Linked DNA regions of Homo sapiens: all the other regions are linked to region 1. The links come from fine-mapping of genetic effects on gene expression. A gene starts in region 1. Each other region holds a variant in brackets. All regions are shown on one strand. Distances are between the middles of the regions.

The links.
Region 2: its variant is fine-mapped to the expression of IQGAP2 in whole blood (TOPMed, PIP above 0.99).
Region 3: its variant is fine-mapped to the expression of IQGAP2 in whole blood (INTERVAL, PIP above 0.99).

What each region holds. Positions count from the first base shown.
Region 1 is chr5:76,400,598-76,406,519 of GRCh38, reverse strand. It overlaps IQGAP2 (IQ motif containing GTPase activating protein 2), which reads right to left and starts at 3,235. Exons shown (of 36, transcript NM_006633.5): 1 at 2,929-3,235. The coding sequence starts at 2,974. RefSeq lists silencers at 2,924-3,033, 3,204-3,553 and an enhancer at 2,770-3,270.
Region 2 is chr5:76,608,398-76,614,319 of GRCh38, reverse strand. IQGAP2 (IQ motif containing GTPase activating protein 2) reads right to left here. Exons shown (of 36, transcript NM_006633.5): 13 at 3,137-3,300. It overlaps LOC101929109 (a long non-coding RNA gene), which reads left to right and starts at 5,351. Exons shown (of 2, transcript NR_134278.1): 1 at 5,351-5,460. RefSeq lists an enhancer at 5,439-5,488. The variant T/C (reference allele first, on the strand shown) is at 3,080.
Region 3 is chr5:76,541,833-76,547,754 of GRCh38, reverse strand. The region is part of intron 2 of IQGAP2 (IQ motif containing GTPase activating protein 2); the gene reads right to left. Among named protein-coding and RNA genes, the nearest start is that of F2RL2, 79 kb to the left of the region's middle. RefSeq lists an enhancer at 1-225 and a silencer at 3,160-3,209. The variant C/A (reference allele first, on the strand shown) is at 2,500.

The sequences.
Region 1 (5,922 bases):
CAATATATAGTACATACTATGTCTATGTCTGCATTAGTTTAAACAGCTACCTACTATCACTTCCTTCTTCCACCTCTTCCCTTCAGAATTGTGTTACTGAATTGTTTCAGCTTTGTTTGTAGTATTAACATTATACAAAAATAGCTTCACAGATTGCAGGAAGATGTGGCCAATAACAGTGGAAATTAAATAGAAAATAGTCTATTTAATTTCAATCCAGTGCTCCTGTGTGCAAATCAGGGCGACTTCAGCAATCTTGCATCTGTCAGAAACCTGAGAAGAGTCAGAGGCCTCATGGAGAACTCATTGAGAAATCCCTCAAGTACAATTTATTATGTGGCCTTTTACAGACATTCAGTCTGGTACAGAGGAGAAAGACCATAGCAGCCCTGAGCTGAGTTAGTTACTTTGTGTAAGAACTACTGAATTAAATGAGGAGTCAAGTGGGTAGGAGAGAGAGCAGAACAGAAGCTCAGACCCAAAATAAGCAATAGACAACTTAATTCAAACTACCAAAAAGTTGTGTTTAAAGCCCAGTCTCAAACATCTTATACTCAGAACGTTCAGCACTAGAACTGAAATTACAATGTATTGCTACTTTATTTTTAAATGCTAGGGGTAACACCTGTTTCTTATAATTTGAGGTTTTACTGAAACTGTATTTACCAAACCAATAAACAAGAAAAAGCACAGCCCTAGAACACAACAGAGCAAGGACAATCCTGTGTTATCCTTCCCTAGCCTTCCCATGAAGAGCTCACAGCACGATTTTCAGTCTCATGTTGATAGGAGGCTCAGAAAGCCAACAACAACCAGAAATTACACTAACACACCAAATAGCCCTCTTCTGCATGAATAGGTAATGTTAGGTAATGCCTATTAACGCCAAAATCTATTCTGCTAGATATCATGTTCTGAATACACTGAAAATACACCATTCATAAACCAAAATTATAAAAGTGTTCATTTTAATGAGATAACTGTCATATTAAAGCCTTAATATTTCAGGGTGACAAGAAAGTCTGGAAACATAGGCAAATATTTTCCATTTTGACAGTGTTAAGTGACCAACTTGAATGCCAGCACTTGATGAGTGGAGGGAAAGTAACCGGGAGTGATTCCAACAAGATGGCACACCACCCCCTTACACCACATTGGTGAAGAAAGCTGGATGAAGATTTCCAAAGAAAGCGGCCCTGTGGAGTGGGCTTCAGGCTTGCCAGATCTGGACTCCCTTGATAGCTTCTTCTGGAGTGCACTTAAAACACAGATTTATTCCGTGAAAATCAAGCAGCATCACAGATGCACATGCAGGGACTGACAGAAATGCTGCATTCATGTACCACATTCACGGAAATTTTGCACTATTTATTGCTCATGAGGGCCGACATCAATCATGTGATAGCAAGAAATCATTTGTTCATGTAGATTCACCTAGTTTGCAGAAGTTTGTGGTTATCTTATCATTTGACACAGTGAAGCCACCATATATTCTGAGAGCTGGTCACATTAAAGTACTTCCACCAACCTGAGGTTGGCACTGCAAACACTGAATGAGCACAGCATTCCTCCTTGAACCCAACGGGCTCTGCTGTATCTGTGGTTTACCAAAAGGCAAAAAGCTGGGTCCCACCTGAGGTTGGCACTGCAAACACTGAATGAGCACAGCGTTCCCTCTTGAACCCAAGAGGCTCTGCTGTCTGTGTGGTTTACCAAAAGGCAAAAAGCTGGGTCTCAGTCAACTGCTGAATGCATTAGAGTACAGAGGCTGTAGTCCTCAGGCCTCCCCCTCACTGCAAGGGTAACACAGGAAAGATAACCTCCCATCTTTGACACGCCAGCGGGGAGGAGGGGAAAGAACCTACACAAGTTGAGGAGCCCTTTTTCAGTTAAGCAAGTCAGTGGCCTTACGCACCATCCAAAACCACACACACACACAAACAAAACACCCTGCTGAAGGTATCACCACCTTAACCCAAACCTGGTACCTCTGCCACCAAGGCCAGCCTGGGCAAAGATTAACCTGTGGTCTTCGGCCTTGGGTTCACTGACAGGGCCACCTTGGAGAGACAGCAGGCCAACTTTCTGTTTGTTTTAAAGGAAATGCTTCCTGGCACATGTTTAGGACTCTGAACTCTGCACATGAAGCCACGTGGTTGGTGTTAATCTGGCTCCATCCACTCACGATCGGCCAAAGCAACCTATTTCCGAGGGCAGCCCCTGGCTGGGTAATCGACACCATCTCGTTCAAGTCACGCGGGCTCCCGCCGGATTCCCCGGAGCCTAGTGCCGCGTCCTCTCCACACAGCAATCCTCCCGCGCGAGGGGAGCGGGGGGGAAAGGGGTTGGGGGGTTTCAGAGGGGAGGGACTTACACCTGTGAGGCCAATGGCTCTAGCGGGTCAGGTGAAGTTCGAGGGCGCGGGACAGGAGGAGACTCCCGCCCTTCCAGTCAAGCCGGCTTTGCACTAGCAGAGTGCGCCGGCGCCCTACTTGCGGTGCCCACCTGTAGCCACAGCAAACAAACTTTCCTCCCCTTCTGGGTTGGAAGAATCCGGTGCCTTACGCCACCCCCTGGCCCAAGCCGGCGGCGACCCGGAGCTCCGCGGACTCCTCACCTGATACCCCTAAAATCCCAACCTGGTCTGTCCCAGAGCGCAATCCCCGCACTGCCCGCGCACCCCGTTTGGGTATGCGGAGTGGAGGGTCTGGGTTGCCAGCTGGATATTAGGAATTGGGGGGCGGGAGGAGCGGGGGGACGCGATTCACTGCCCTTTGCAACTCCAGCTCCCAACTTTGCCAGCCGCGCAGTTGCTGCCTTCCAATTTCCTCTGCGCCGCGCAACCGGCTCCCTCGGCTTCTCCAACGCCGTCCTCGGGGAGGGAGCTCCCCAAGGCCAGCAGGAACCCCGCGCGCCCGGCGCACTTACAGCCATAGCGGGGTCTCTGCAGCGACGGCAGCTCTTCGTGTGGCATCCTGCGCGTCTCCGGGGGCCCGCCCGGGGCGCGCCCCCCGCGGCTACCCTCGCTGGCCAGGCTCGCGGGCTCTGCGCCCCGCCGGCGCGCTCGGATCCCGCCTCTCGCCGATTTCCCCTAGCCGCCCGAAGATCTGCGACCCACTCCCTCGGTGCTCTCTCGCCAGAGCCAGCCACGGCCGCCGCGCGCTGACACTGAAGTAAAAGTGAACTCTCCTCCCTCGCTCCCTGGCCGGTCGCCGCCGCCTCCCGCAGCAGGTTTCCTTTCTCCTCCAGCCAGGCCCCGTTATTCACCGCGGTGGGAGCGCGCGCCGAGACGCAGCGACCCCTACCGCGTGTCGGGCGCAGCGCCCAGGCCGCGTGGACCCGCCCCTTCTCCCCCGGGGGAGAGGGAAGGGGCCGAGAGGGACGCTGGGCCGGGACCCCCTGCAGCTGGGGCCCCCGCACAGCTGGTGGCCTGGGGGTGGCGGCCACCCCGCCTTATTTCTCGCTTCTGGAGAGTTTCGAGGGTGGAAGTGAACCAACGCGGAGAAGTGCAAGAAAAACCGCAGAAGTCACAGGGAGCCCTTCGTGTCCGGGGTGTTGCTCAGTTACTGAGGGACAAACAGCGCGGTTCCTTTTCCTCTGGGGAGATTTCACGTTGACTTTTGTTCTTCTTCTTCGTCTTTTTGGTTTTGTTTTTTTTTGTTTTTTTTTTTTTTTTGCTTCGAAAGTTGCTTCTGTCACTTTTTGTCTACAAAATAACAGGGTTCCCCTTATGACAAGAAACTGAGTGTGTGTGTGCTGGAGGAACAAGATAACCCAAGGCAACCACTCAAAACACAACTGCGAGTCATCCCCCTCCCTCCGATCACCTTGTGCCCGCCCCCGCCCCAGTGTGCAGAGCCTTCTCTCAAGCCCAGCTGGGGTCGCAAGCCACAGAAACCTTTTCCGGCTAAGCTTTTAAGGAAATTAAACTGCATGTGGCTGTTTTGAAATCGGGGTTTTCATGCGGTCGCCAGGAGCTATTTTTCTCTTTGTGTCTCAGCGTGATAAAATCTGGAGGGAATGCGGGACGCTTCCGTACCTGTGCCCTCACCTATTTGACAATTGTGGAATGTGTGGGTGACCCGATAACAGGAAAAACAAACTGAGGGAGGGCGATAAGAAATTATTTAGAGCCGGGCGCGGCGGCTCACGCCTGTAATCCCAGCACTTTGTGAAGCCGAGGCACAAGGATCCCTTGAGCCCAAGAGTTCCAGACCAGCCTGGGCAACATAGCGAGACCCCGTCTCTCCAAAAAATGAAAAAATAATATTAGCCGTATTAGCCGGGCGTGGTGGTTGCGCCTGCAGTCCCAAGCTACTCAGGAAGCTGAGGTGGGAGGATTGCTTGAGCCCGAGAGGACAAGGCTGCTGTGGGTTGTGATTGCACCAGTGCACTCCAGCCTGGGTGAGAGTGCAAGACCCTCGGAGGCGGTGGGGGGATGGAAATTATTTCGCTGAGGAAATGGTGGCATAGTGACACTAATCATTTTTTATTATGCAAGGATACAGAGGATGAGCAGCTGTTTTCCATTTCATATAGGAGACGCAGTCCTTCTCAAACTTGTTGAAACTCACATTCTTGGGCCCCACCCTCAGAATTTCCGACTCAATGGGTCTGGGCTGGTGCTCATGAATTTGCATTTCTAATTTCTAGCATACTGCCAGGTGATGCTGACACTGCAGAGCGTGCTTAGGGTGGCTCTGTGAGTGGTAGATGCTCACAGGGACGTAAACTGTACACAGGGAACTCTCAATTCAGACGGGATAGCAAAATATTTTTTTTTTTTCCCTGATGGCATTAGATTCTCACCTGTTTGGAATGGGATGAATGGAGTTTTCCTTTCTTAAAAAGCAGATGCCTCTCAGTCTAAGAACAATTCAGAGGCGAAATGGCCACATTTGAGGCTCGGCACCCTGTCAATTGATATTCACCCAAAGGAGAAATGTGGAAGGGGATTTTCGTGCATGTCAGGAGATGCTGAATTAAATGATGTCTAAAGTTCATTCCATTTCTGTTGTTGCATTTGTCAAGTGTTAACAATTAAGTATTTACACATAACAATTTTCGTATGAGTGTATGACTTAGAGCCCAAATAAATGAGTAGTCTATATATTTAGAGGTGGGTGAAAAAATCACTCTGAACTAAAATGGTCCAGGAAGGTGACAGGGTTTGAAAGTGTGGCTTGAAGTGGAAGTGTGGTAAAAGCTGGATGGAGAGCATCCAAGGGAAAGAAACAATGAGGTGGAGCACAAGGTTGGGTTGGAGCTGGATTGGTTGGACTGGATTGGAGCTATGAAGTTGTCATCAGGTTGTGGAGGGCCCTGAGTGTCTGGCTAAGAGGACCGGAGATTATCGTAGAAACATTCAAGAGATCTTAAAGGTTTTGAGTATGGAAGCTGCAGAATGCAAGGGAGTTTAGGGAAGGAGAATATTGGAGCAGGTCATAGGATAGGTTGGGATGGGACAACTTGGAGATGTTGACGCCCCGTGGAAGGTGTTTGGACAGAGATTGAAGAGAGAGGTAAGAAGAGCCTCAATGAGGCTGATATCAGTAAGGGAGATGAAGGGGGTGTTTTAATATACTCAAGTTGGTGCCATCAACATGTATAGATATTATACACACTAACAAGTAGATTAAGTAAAGTAAATATCTGTTAATCGTAGAAAGTGAAGGTTAAAGCGTAAATAGGTGATTGGGAGGGCAGTAGTTCTAAGTTCATGTTCTAGCTGGTCAGCTCTTTGAAGAATCTGAGGTGGCTTCAAGGCCCTGTCGTGGGTCATGTTTTTATGAAGAACTTAAAACACTAAGACGAAATTGGAAAGGCAAATGCTCTTGTTATTTTGCAAGTGCTAGCATTAATCATGGGCATTTTGGTCTGCACTCATTGGGTAATAACAATACTGTCTCACAGGCCACTTCA
Region 2 (5,922 bases), 210 kb before region 1:
ATGCTCTAATCACACCATGAAAGCTACTGTTTCCACACCTAGAAAGGATGCCTGACACAGAGCTGGCATGGTGTGGGCACTCAGGGGCTTCTTTCAAAGGACGCCTGTGGAGTTCCATCTCAATCTAGATTGGAATGCTCAGTCTAGAAGGGACCTATACTGCCTGCCTATGAAAGGCCTTGGGTTTGTGGAGTCAGGCTCACCTCAAAGACAAACCCCCATGTGGCTGTGGGCAGACAGGGACCCAGGTCTGTCTCTATTTGTCCTCAGAAGATCCTGACTTTGGTGTGTAAATTCAGCAGACTCTACGTCTAGTAAGAACCTTGAAGCCGGGTGCGGTGGCTCATGCCTGTAATCCCAGCACTTTGGGAGGCCGAGGCAGGTGGATAACCTGAGGTCAGGAGTTCAAGACCAGCCTGGAAAACATGGTGAAACCTCGTCTCTACAAAATACAAAAATTAGCCGGGCTTGATGGCAGGTGCCTGTAGTCCCTGCTACTCGGGAGGCTGAGGCAGGAGAATCGGTTGAACCTGGGAGGTGGAGGTTTCCGTGAGCTGATATGGCGCCACGGCACTCCAGCCTGGGTAACTGAGCGAGACTCCACCTCACAAAAAAAAGAACCTTAAGATACTGACATCACTCGCCCCTTACTTGGGAGGCAACCATAGGTGCCCACAATAATACTAGCTACATTATTTAAGCCCTTTTTTTGGTGCCAGGCTCCATGCTAAATGCTATAGCTACACAAACACGTGCACATATTCTTCATTAATAGTACCTATAGTTATATATTGATATATATTTACATATTGTATATTCTCATTGAACCCTCACCATAATCCTATAAGACAGGTACTATTATTCCAATTTTATACATGCAAAAATAAGCATATAGAGATTTGATGATTTGACCAAGATCACATAACTAATTTGTGGCAAAGCCAGGATTTGAATGATGTCTATCTTCAAAGCAAATAACTTTGTCTTCCAATGCTTGTAAGTTTACCATGTGCCATGGCCACAGCCACCTCAGTGGAAACATCAAGGTGAAGGCCCACTCTCCTGCCCCTGGGATGTATGGACTCCAGGCTTGTGTATGAGCCCTCACTCTCCCACTCACTGGCTGTACCTTGGCCAGGCATTCGCCCTGAGCCTCAGGCTCGTTCACATCAGATGAGACAGCACCCATTCCACAGGTGGTATGAGGCTTAAATGAGAAAGACTGATGTGAGTGGGGGCGCTTGGCAAAGTGAGGAGGGTCAGGCAATGCCACTGCCGTTCCTGTTGGAAGGCTGGCAGTGCAGAGGGCGCCACCATGGGGGATACATTTCTCCACCTTCAATGAGGCAGTGGAGTAGTGAGGATAGGATTTACATTGGTTTTTAAAAGTTTAGAAACAGTAATTATTTAATACACACACTCCTTAAAAAATTTAAAAATCCAAGCAGTACAAAAACGGAGTGAAGAATAAATCTCCCATCCATACTAGCCTTCTAGTTCACCTTCCAGAAGGTATCCTCCCTCCAGAAATATTTTAGACACATGTAAGAGTGTGTGCGCCCCTCCCCCAACACATACACAAGCCTATCTATATTCCATCTATGTGCACATCACAGCATGATTTTTTTTTTGCTTAACAACATTTAGGTTGTTTTTCATGTTTTGTGATTGCAAACAAAGCTGCAATAAACATCTTTTCCCATCTGCCTTAATACATAATTATAATGTTTCCGAATCAGACAGACCTGAGCTGCATGTAGTCTCAGGACTAATTATCTTTTAGATAGCTTGATTTTGTTTTATTTTATTTTATGTATTTATTTTCGAGACAGAGCCTTGCTCTGTCACCCAGGTGGGGGTGCAATGGTGCGATCTCAGCTCGCTGCAACCTCTACCTCTCGGTTCAAGAGATTCTTGTCCCTCAACCTCCCAAGTAGCTGGGATTATAGGTGTGAGCCACCACACCTGGCTAATTTTTTATTTTTTATTTTTATCTTTTAGCAGAGATGGGGTTTCACCATGTTTGCCAGGCTGGTCTCGAACTCCTGGCCTCAAGTGATCCACCTGCCTTGGCCTCCCGAAATGCTGGGATTACAGGTGTGAGCTACTGTGCCCGGTCACATTTTAGATAGCTTTCAACAAGTTACTTAATCTTGGTTTCATTATGTGTAAGATGGCAATAATGATGGCAAAATGGTTCAGAAGGCTGTTATGAATTGTTGTGATGATTAAATGAGATGATACACATGAGTATCTAATATCATGCCTGACAAATAGTAGGTTCTCAATAAATGTTTGCATTAACCAAGGATGTTTTTCCTGTTTCGAATGAGGCAGTTCCTAGGTTCTAAAGACCTAGACAGAGGAGATGACCGCCCTTTCAGTTGGGTTTGCACCTGAAGACATGGCAGCCATAAGTAGCTAGGTCCCAGGTGGCATCACTCCCACTCTTAGGTGACAGATCATATCAGCCTCACCACTCAGCCCATTGGCCTTATCACAGAGGCCAGTCTTTGTGGGGCTCCTTATAATAGCGGTACAAGCTCTGTACTCAGAAAAAGCCACTAGTCTTCGAGAGGACAGCTTCTGCTCTACCTCCACACCAACTTCTCTTAGGATTCTAGTCCCCGACAATCTCAAACATCCGTGAATCAATCTGTGTATCTCTCATTTTGACACTTTGCACACCCTTATCTTTACTATTACTTGACTGTTCCATGTGACAATGTCCACTGCCTCAATCAGTTTCTAAGCATTTTGAAGATAAGGTCAGAGAACATTCAAATGGTATTATGTGTCCCTCTGTATCCCCATCTTCTCTACCAGAAGCTATGGACTGAAGTGTGCACATAGTATCTACTAAGGAAATAGTCAATGAATTGAACTCTGAACAAGAACTCACCTACAACTGAGTTTTTAGTCAAAGAATTAAAGCAATAAATAGCTCTGGAGCTGGTTTCCCCCCAATGTTTGTTACCAGGAAAATAACAGCTCTATTATTTCCATTCTGATTCATGGGTAATTGTTGGGACAAGAAGCTCATGAGATTTAACGTAAATGGGTCAAATCCTCCTCCTTC[T/C]CTCCCTCTGCCACCCAGCCTGTAAAATTTAAAAGAAACAGATATACTAAAACTTACTCCGAGTTTCTGTGATTTAGCATGGTATAAAACATCCTGGTAGTGCTGGGCATGGGCTGGGTCCACATCACTAATATTCGCAGTAGGTAGGAGCAAAGTTTCTAAAGTCCTCAAAGGATTCCCTTCATCAATAGCTTCATTGATGTACCCTACAGCTACAACTCCTAGAAAATGAAGAAGTAGTTTTCCTTTTAAGTCACAGTACATTATAACTTCTTTAGTATCACCGATTGCAAAAGGCTAATTAACTAGTACAGCAAGGCTATAGGATGCAAGATGCAAGCACAAAACCAATTATGTGTCTATACGCTCATAATAAGCAATCTGAAAATAAAATTAAGAACACATTCAATTCATAAGACTGCAACTACAAATACATTATAATTATAAATAAATATTTAGACATAATTTAATGAAAGAAACATAAGACATGTACACTGAAAACTATACAACACCATGGGAAAAAACTTAAAGACAAATAAATGAAAAGAGCCAATGTTCATGAATTGGAAGATTTAGTATTGTTAAGATGGAAATACTTCTTAAATTGACCTACAGATTCAATGCAACTTCTATCAAGGTCCCAGCTGCTGGTTTTTATTTTTATTTTTTTTTTTTGAGAGATTCTTGCTCTGTCCCCCAGGCTGGAGTGCTGTGGCATGATCTTGGCTCACTGCCACCTCCGCCTCCTGTGTTCAAGTGATTCTTGTGCCTCAGCCTCCTGAGTAGCTCTCTACATTCTGACCAACACTTGTTATTGTCTTTTTCATTACAGCCATCCTAGTGGGTGTGAAGTGGTATCATACTGTGGTTTGGATTTGTATTTTTCTAGTGACTAATGATTTTGAGCATCTTTTCATGTGTTTATTTTCCCTTTGTACATCATCTTTAAAGAAATGAAGTGTCTATTCAAGTCCCAGCTACTTGGGAGGCTGAGGTAGGAGAATCACTTGAATCCAGGAGGCAGAGGTTGCAGTGAGCCAAGATTGCACCACTGCACTCTAGCCTGGGTGACAGAGTAAGACTCTGTTCCCCCCACCAAAAAAAAAAAAAAAAAAAAAAAAAAAAATATATATATATATATATATATATATATATATATATATAGAGAGAGAGAGAGAGAGAGAGAGAGAAAGAGAGAACAAGACTGACTATAGGGTTCACAAATGAAAAGCACAGAAGTCAAACTATGAAACCTGCTTTTACAATTCTAATGAAACGGATCTATCTGGAGGTTACTTCTCAATACCTTATTATTAAAAAATAAACTATCATCCATTCATAAAAAAATGCATTTAGATAGACATGCACACACAGACACACACACACACACACACACACATATATATATAAAACACACATATACACACACTGCCAAGGAGCTTTTGCTTCCTAGGTTAGTACTGATGGATAAGAACTGTTAAAGAAACTAGATATTAATGAACAATAAGCTTAGAATATAAGCATTTTTAAGGTCAAACTTCATATTTCTCATTTTTTCCATTAGATTTAATCTAAAATGATCACCCGTCACTTCACAACTGTGATATGCCATGAAATAGAATGAGTACTTCTCATTTTTAAAAAAAGTATCTCCAGCTTGACATTCAAGTAAAGATAAAATATTTAGCTAAATATTTCTTGAATAGATGAGCCCATAACCACCACTTCGTTAAGAATGAAAAGATTTACCTGTAAGAAGAATGAAACCATCTAAAACTCCTAGAAATCATTCCAGACTATAATACTTAAATATGTTTGAAGAAAAAGCAGAAGTATTTCTCTAATGTGCAGGTTATATTATCTGTAAACATTGACAGAACTCTGGAAAGTCTAAGTATTATCTATATACAAGGTACTGTCGTTTTACCCTATAGGATTTATAAACTGGAGTGCATGGAATATTTAGTGCCATTCTCTGGTCACCCCCCTTGGGTAAGCTGTTCTAAATACCTTTAAAACACCCCATCCAAAAATGGTCTTAACAGAACCAAGGCCGATCACCTGGAAGTGAGTGCATTTCAGCTGACTTGATTGAAATCACCTGCTAAAGTTGCTGTCTGCTGCGTTTCTAAGAATACAAGCTGCTGAGGTCATAGTGAATGACATCATAGGAGCTGAAAGATTACCCAGAAGCCCTCTGGGAACATATGCATCACTTCCTCTGTTTATAAATAAAAGGGAAATCCTATTTGAAGAAAGATTGCTGAGCTTCACTCAGCCCACGGTCCACTTCTTTACATCAACACATGTTACTATAACATTCTAGTCCACAAGAGAGTGGGCGTTCTTTTAGAGTTCATGTATTTGAGGCAGCAGATGAGGTAACCTACACAGAATTGTACCTACCAAATTTAAAGAGCAAAAACTCAAAGAAGAAAACTTCCTGATGTAGGCTATAAGGTTAAAATAATGCTCCTTTATGGTTCTACTGGGAAAAGTAAACTTTTCAGTAAGAAATCAACAGAGCCTGAGGAAATGCATTCAGCAGCTAGCTTCTCCATTAAATTCACCTTCTATATTTCTCATTTTCCATTAGCTGCTTACCTCACCCACATCACAACTCAGATATGGAATTAGATCTCAGAGCATGTGGCAAGAATAAGGTGGGGAGGCAAGAGTAATGCACCTTCAAAACGTCCATGAAAAATTCTCAGCTCCTCAGATGACTTAATTACTATACTGAGCAATTCCTGCCTGGTTACAATGGTGTATTTTAGAAATTTTAGATTTTGAAGAATTGCCTAAACATGATATCAAACTCAATACTTCAGGAACTCATTCTG
Region 3 (5,922 bases), 140 kb before region 1:
CACCTTCAGTTTTACAAGATAACCATGAGCTGGGGTGCAGAGGTAAAGTAAAGAAGAAAGAACCGAAAGTACTCAGCAGAAGTTTCCTGGCACATCAACAGTCATCTGAGGCTTACGCATACATTTTGGTCTAAATAACAACTTAAGACTTGATGAAGCAGATTCTCCTTCCTGGGTTTGTCTACACTGTGCACATGCTCTAACCACAAAATAATCACTGTTCTTGCACTTTTAACACGTCTTTGCCCCAACGTAGGCAGGAAAATGAAAGCAACAAGCTTAATAAGATCATTGTAAACTTACTTAAATTGCCACAACTCCTTCCTACACTTGACTTCCCTCTTCTAAGCCCCAAGCAAGTATTCAATATGGAATTGTTAAATAATGGACATTCCAGAACACCAAGAGAATGCCATAAAGCCAGCCCATATTTCAACATAGAAGAAACAAAACTGGCAAAAGCTGTATCCAGTATGAATTTCCTTCCTTCTCTTCCTCCCCTTAAACTACAGTTATCTTATGTCCAAAGTTAACCCTTTCTTGGAGGTGGTGAATGAGGGAGAGTTACACAGACTGATTCCTCTACAGCCTAAAGGATCAAAAGAGAATAGCTCGCAGCAGGTAGTGTGAAGTAATAGCACAGTGAAAAATTCAACTGTGAGGAATGTCATCTTAATACCATATTTGCAGTGCTTTCTTCCTCTAGCTATGTCCTTTGTCCAGCCCTTATTGATTTCCCCCACCTCCACTACCAGCTGTACCAAGGAAGTGACAAACAGGGACTCACTAGATGCCGTCAATCATTGTCACCAAGAAGAGAAAAAAAGAATCCAACATATGTTCTTGCAAATGCCTCCCACTCTCCACTCCCACCTCTTCCTCTTCACTGACACACAGTCTTTATAAGCAGTAGGCCACTTTTTAATATCCCTCGAGTGAAAACGTTTGAGGCACAGATAGGAGGAGCATCCCAAGCACCATTCTTTCCTGACATGTGTGTCCGTAGTTACAGTTCACAGTGCAAGCGGCAAGACCAAGGCAGTGTTGCCCACCAATGAGTTACTGCCAATCCTGACTACAGAGAGCAGAAGGGCTGCTGATGATTAAACCAATGCTGCTCTTGTGCCAGGCGTGACAGAGGAACAGAAAGATGTACAATACAGGTAGCAGATGGTACTCTCTGCAACTCATTCTGACGACATAACAGGAGTTTCCTATTTGTCTGCTGACCACCATGACGCCTGGTATATCAATTCCTATGGCAACAGCTCTAAGTATAGTGCACTACAAATAAAAAGTGGTGTATTGTTTTGTTTTTTTGAAATGGAGTCCCACTCTGTCCCTCAGGCTGGAGTGCTGTGGCATGATCTCAGCTCACTGCAACCTCTGCCTCCCAGGTTCGAGGATTCTCCTGCCTCAGCCTCCGGAATAGCTGAGATTACAGGCACACGCCACCACACCTGACCAATTTTTGTATTTTTAGTAGAGATGGGGTTTCACCACGTTGGCTAGGCTGGTTTTGAACTCCCGACCTCAAGTGATCTGCCCACCTCGGCCTCCCAAAGTGCTGGGATTACAGGTGTGAGCCAACACACCCGGCCAAAAAGGGGTGTATTAAATGGATATAGACACCTGTGTTCATTTCTGGAAATAAAGCAAGAGGTAAAATGTGGCCACTTCCATCACATGCTATAGGAGAATTTTTCTCTGGCTCAATAATTCCCTATTGGGCATCTGTTCTGGCTTAAGAAAAAGAAAATCAACAAAGACCAATGATACGCATGTAACCACAATGATATTAAAAATAAAAAACTCAGATGTCTGATGACAGGAGAGAGTGTGAAGTAATAACTGATTATATAAATGGAATACTATACAGCCATTAATATTTATGACAAATTAGCAAAATGGAGGAAAGTTGAAATAGTAAAGTGAGTAAAACAGTAACACAAAAGTACATGCACTTTTTGTCATGTGTGTCAACATGTGAAAAAACCTGGGTAAAAAGTCACAAAGATTGCTTCAAGTATTTTCCAAATCTCAGTTTGGCCCTACAAAGACAGATAGCAATGAAGTGGATTCACACCTAGTAAAATGGATGGAACTTTCAAAGCCTAGTAAAAAAAACTAAGGAACAGAATGAGATAGCCATACCATTTGCATAAATTAAAAATACTTACACACAAAACAAGATCCATTGCAAGAATACACACAAATCTAAATGATACATTGTATACATATCAGAATGTTGCCTATGGGAGGGAGGGAACCAGGGATAAAAGGAAATAACTTTTAGGGGTCCAGCACAAACCAGAGTCCACCATGTGCCCAGAGATACTGTGTACCATGACCTAAAGGGTGTGTCGGCTTAACCTTTGCCCCCGAGGTCCTTTGGCAAGGCTAGGCATGGTTTTAAAATTGTAGTGGAAACTGGTGCAATTTCAGACCACCACACATTTCCTCTCCACGGCATGTCCCTTGCTCCCAAACAGTAGCTGC[C/A]TTTTATGATGCCACTTCTGTTCGGTCCATTTCTAATTTTCCTTGTGTTTAACAAGATTGAAAGGCTGCAGGAAATCATCATTAATAAGAAATATTTAATCATATCGCTATTGTATACACATCCATGTTACACAACAGTGTAACAATTGTATAGTTTTATATACATAGTTATGTGTATATATGTATGTATATGTAGAGATAACTATATAGAAGAAAACTATAGATATGTATATATGTACTGTATACAACTACATATGTATATATTTACATATAGTACATATATACATATATACTGTATATAACTACATATATACTGTAGACATATATATGTACTGTATATAACTACATACATACTGTATAGAACTACATATAGTTCTATCGCTATAGAGTTACCTATAAAGTATGGATAACTATTCAGAAATTATTCCCACTAGGCTACAAAAGAAACTGGCAATAATGTTTACCTTTGGGAAGGGGAACTGGGTGGGAGAAAGATATAATTTTCACTGTCCCCTCCTTTGGGCCTTTTACATTTTGCACCACGTGTATATATGACCAAAAAAAATTAAAGCACTTAATTAAGCAACCACTCACTCTGTACACATAACATTACACAGTAGGCTTAAGAAGTAAAGTGTTCCAATTATACCAGAAGCAGTAAAAATCTGACCAAGTTCTCTCTAAGCTGCATCCTGGTGTGCCTTAGCTAGATCCATCTCCACCCAGCACAACCACAGGCAGCTCACAAGGTGGCAGCATTTGCTGCTGTGCTTGGCTATATGTCCTTGATTTTATATGTAGGTTAATAATCAATTAGAGCCCTGCCACCCAGAATATCCTCCTAGGCCCCAAGTCGGCTGGGAACTGCTCTCTCTGTCAAGTGGCCCTGTCCTTGAGTCTCAGTGCTTCTTGGCTCTGAGGATTGTAGACTCTCTTGTGAACCATCGTGGGCTGTAGGAACCCCTGGGGGATTCAGGGTCTTTACTCCTTGACAAAGAAGGCATGTTAAAAATTGTTTCAAATGAAGGTTCTTATCTTAGAAGTCAGTTTATTTACTGTCTGCCAGCTTTTTGGTCAGAGCAGCAGACATTTGGGGTGCCATGGCCATGGGAACAGGAAGATGATGAGAGGAACAGGCTGCCAGGAAAGCGTGGCTTTGGACTGGCTAGAAAGTGATGCCTACCAGGACCCATTCCTACAGCATGTTCAGGAATGGGGCATCTTAACTGCTATCCACAGTAAATTCTCACTCAGAAAGACTTGCAGGCGCTTAGGAGTTTCCAGACAGATAGTTAAGTACCATTTCACCTGCCTAACAATTTCATTATTGTTCTGTATTGACATAGACATCAGAAATAGAGAAAACTTCTTTCTGCGGCACACCCTAATGGGGGGAAATGTAAGTCAACCTGACAAAACAAAAACAAAAACAAAAAACAAAAAACCTCGTCCCATCTACCTTGAGAAATAAAAGACAAGTGGAGCTTTTAGGAGGGAGGGGCAAGATGAAGCCAGGAAACAAACTGTTACAAAATAAGAAAATACAAGTCCAAACTCACAACTGACTACTATGCCCAGTCAGGAAAAAGAAGACAGATAAGAAGAGATTGATGGATGCAAAAAGAAACTGGCTGAGAAGCAGAAGACAAACACATGCACCACAGGTTTCCCTGACAGGAAGCACAAATCATTGGTACTGACTTGGTGACAACGAGGTTCCCAGCTCCATCTCCTGGGCAAATGATCAACAGCTCCTCAGAGAAACATGCTGGAGGGCCGTGATGCCTGAGAGTGAAGGCAAGGAGGCCGGTCCACCTAGGCTCTGAGGCCCGCTTGCACATTTACGTCCCTCCAACCATCATCAAGCACTGGCTCTTGATCACTGAAATGCTTCACCTTTAATGAAGTCATTAGCGACCACACAGAGAGACGGGCTGAAAACCACAAGGGGTGTCATGCGAAGGTTTGAGGGAACAGGAGCTGGTTATAAGAGAACTCTATTCCACTCTGGCGTTCTTGAGTTTCAGGAAATATGGCTTGAGCAGCAGTACAGCCAGCTCTGTGCAATAACAAATCATGCTGCGAGGGTGTTCTGGGCCGGCTTGGGTTTCACAATGCCTCCATTTCATGGCTGTGACGCAGCTTCACCCTACACCTTCCAGTACTGATTATCTGTAAGACACAGGATCTGAAGCGGCCAATTATCATCTTCACAATCTAAACAGCTACAGCCATTGCTAACTGTATTTCCTGACCACAGACATGAAACATTTGTATTTCTTGTGCCTTAATTCTAGCATATACAAAGACTATTAAATGAATGGGCACACACACAGATATAAAGTCCTTACATATGTGAAAAGATTTCTCTATAACGTAAACAGTGGATACAACTAGCAAGCAGAGGCCTACAATTAGGTGGCAATGACAGAAGAGCCACTCTATGTTAGAATGTGGCAGAGCTAAAAGGGTGTATCTACCTGATGGGCAGATGCAAAACATGATATCCAATTGTTCCAGGTATGAGGAGACAAATTTAATGCAACTTTTAACCAGTAGAAACCAATCTGTTGATAAGACCTGTCCCTCAAGGGGCTCAAGGGATGCAAGGATAAATGAAGAGATTTCAGATTTTATCAGGAAAGAAAGTGTCAGTGGAGGTATTAAGTAGCTAGGTAGAACAGAAGTATTAGTCATATCTAATCACCTCGATTATTTATATAAGTTGGAATAAATCCAAACTAACTTTAGCCTCAGAAAATCCACTCTAACAGGGCGGGCTTGGAAACAGATACCTGCAGGGGTGAGGCCGGTACCGGTAAGGAACGAAGCTGGCTGGGTGGGGGCTGTAAGCAACTTGGCTCTAGCTCACAGCTACTTGTGGAAATGTGGACCACAAGGGCCTGACCTTTGGGATTTCTTGAAAAGTGGAAGATTCAGATTTTTTATGAGTTCTTCTGTTTTTTTAAATGCTCACAACTAACTGAAAAATAGTGGCCGGGCACAGTGGCCCATGCCTGTAATCCCAACACTTTGGGAGGCCAAGGCAGGAGGACTGCTTGTGCCCAGCAGTGTGACACCATCTCTATCAATTTTTTTTTTTAATTAGTATGGCATGGTGTTGCATGCCCATAGTCCCACCTACTCAGAGGGCTGAGGTGGGAGCATTGCTGCAGCCCAAGAGGGTGAGGTTTCAGTGAGCTGTGATTGCACCACTTCATGCTAGTCTGGGTGACAGAACAAGTCGCTGTCTCAAACACATACACACATACACGCACACAAAAAATAAACATTCTGCACGTTGAATCAAATACATCTAAAACTCTTATTACAGTATTTCAAAGGAGATGAAACTATGCTCTGCATGTTCTCATATAAGTGAAGGTTGGCTATGAGTTTATAGCGGGGGAAAGCTGCTCTTTC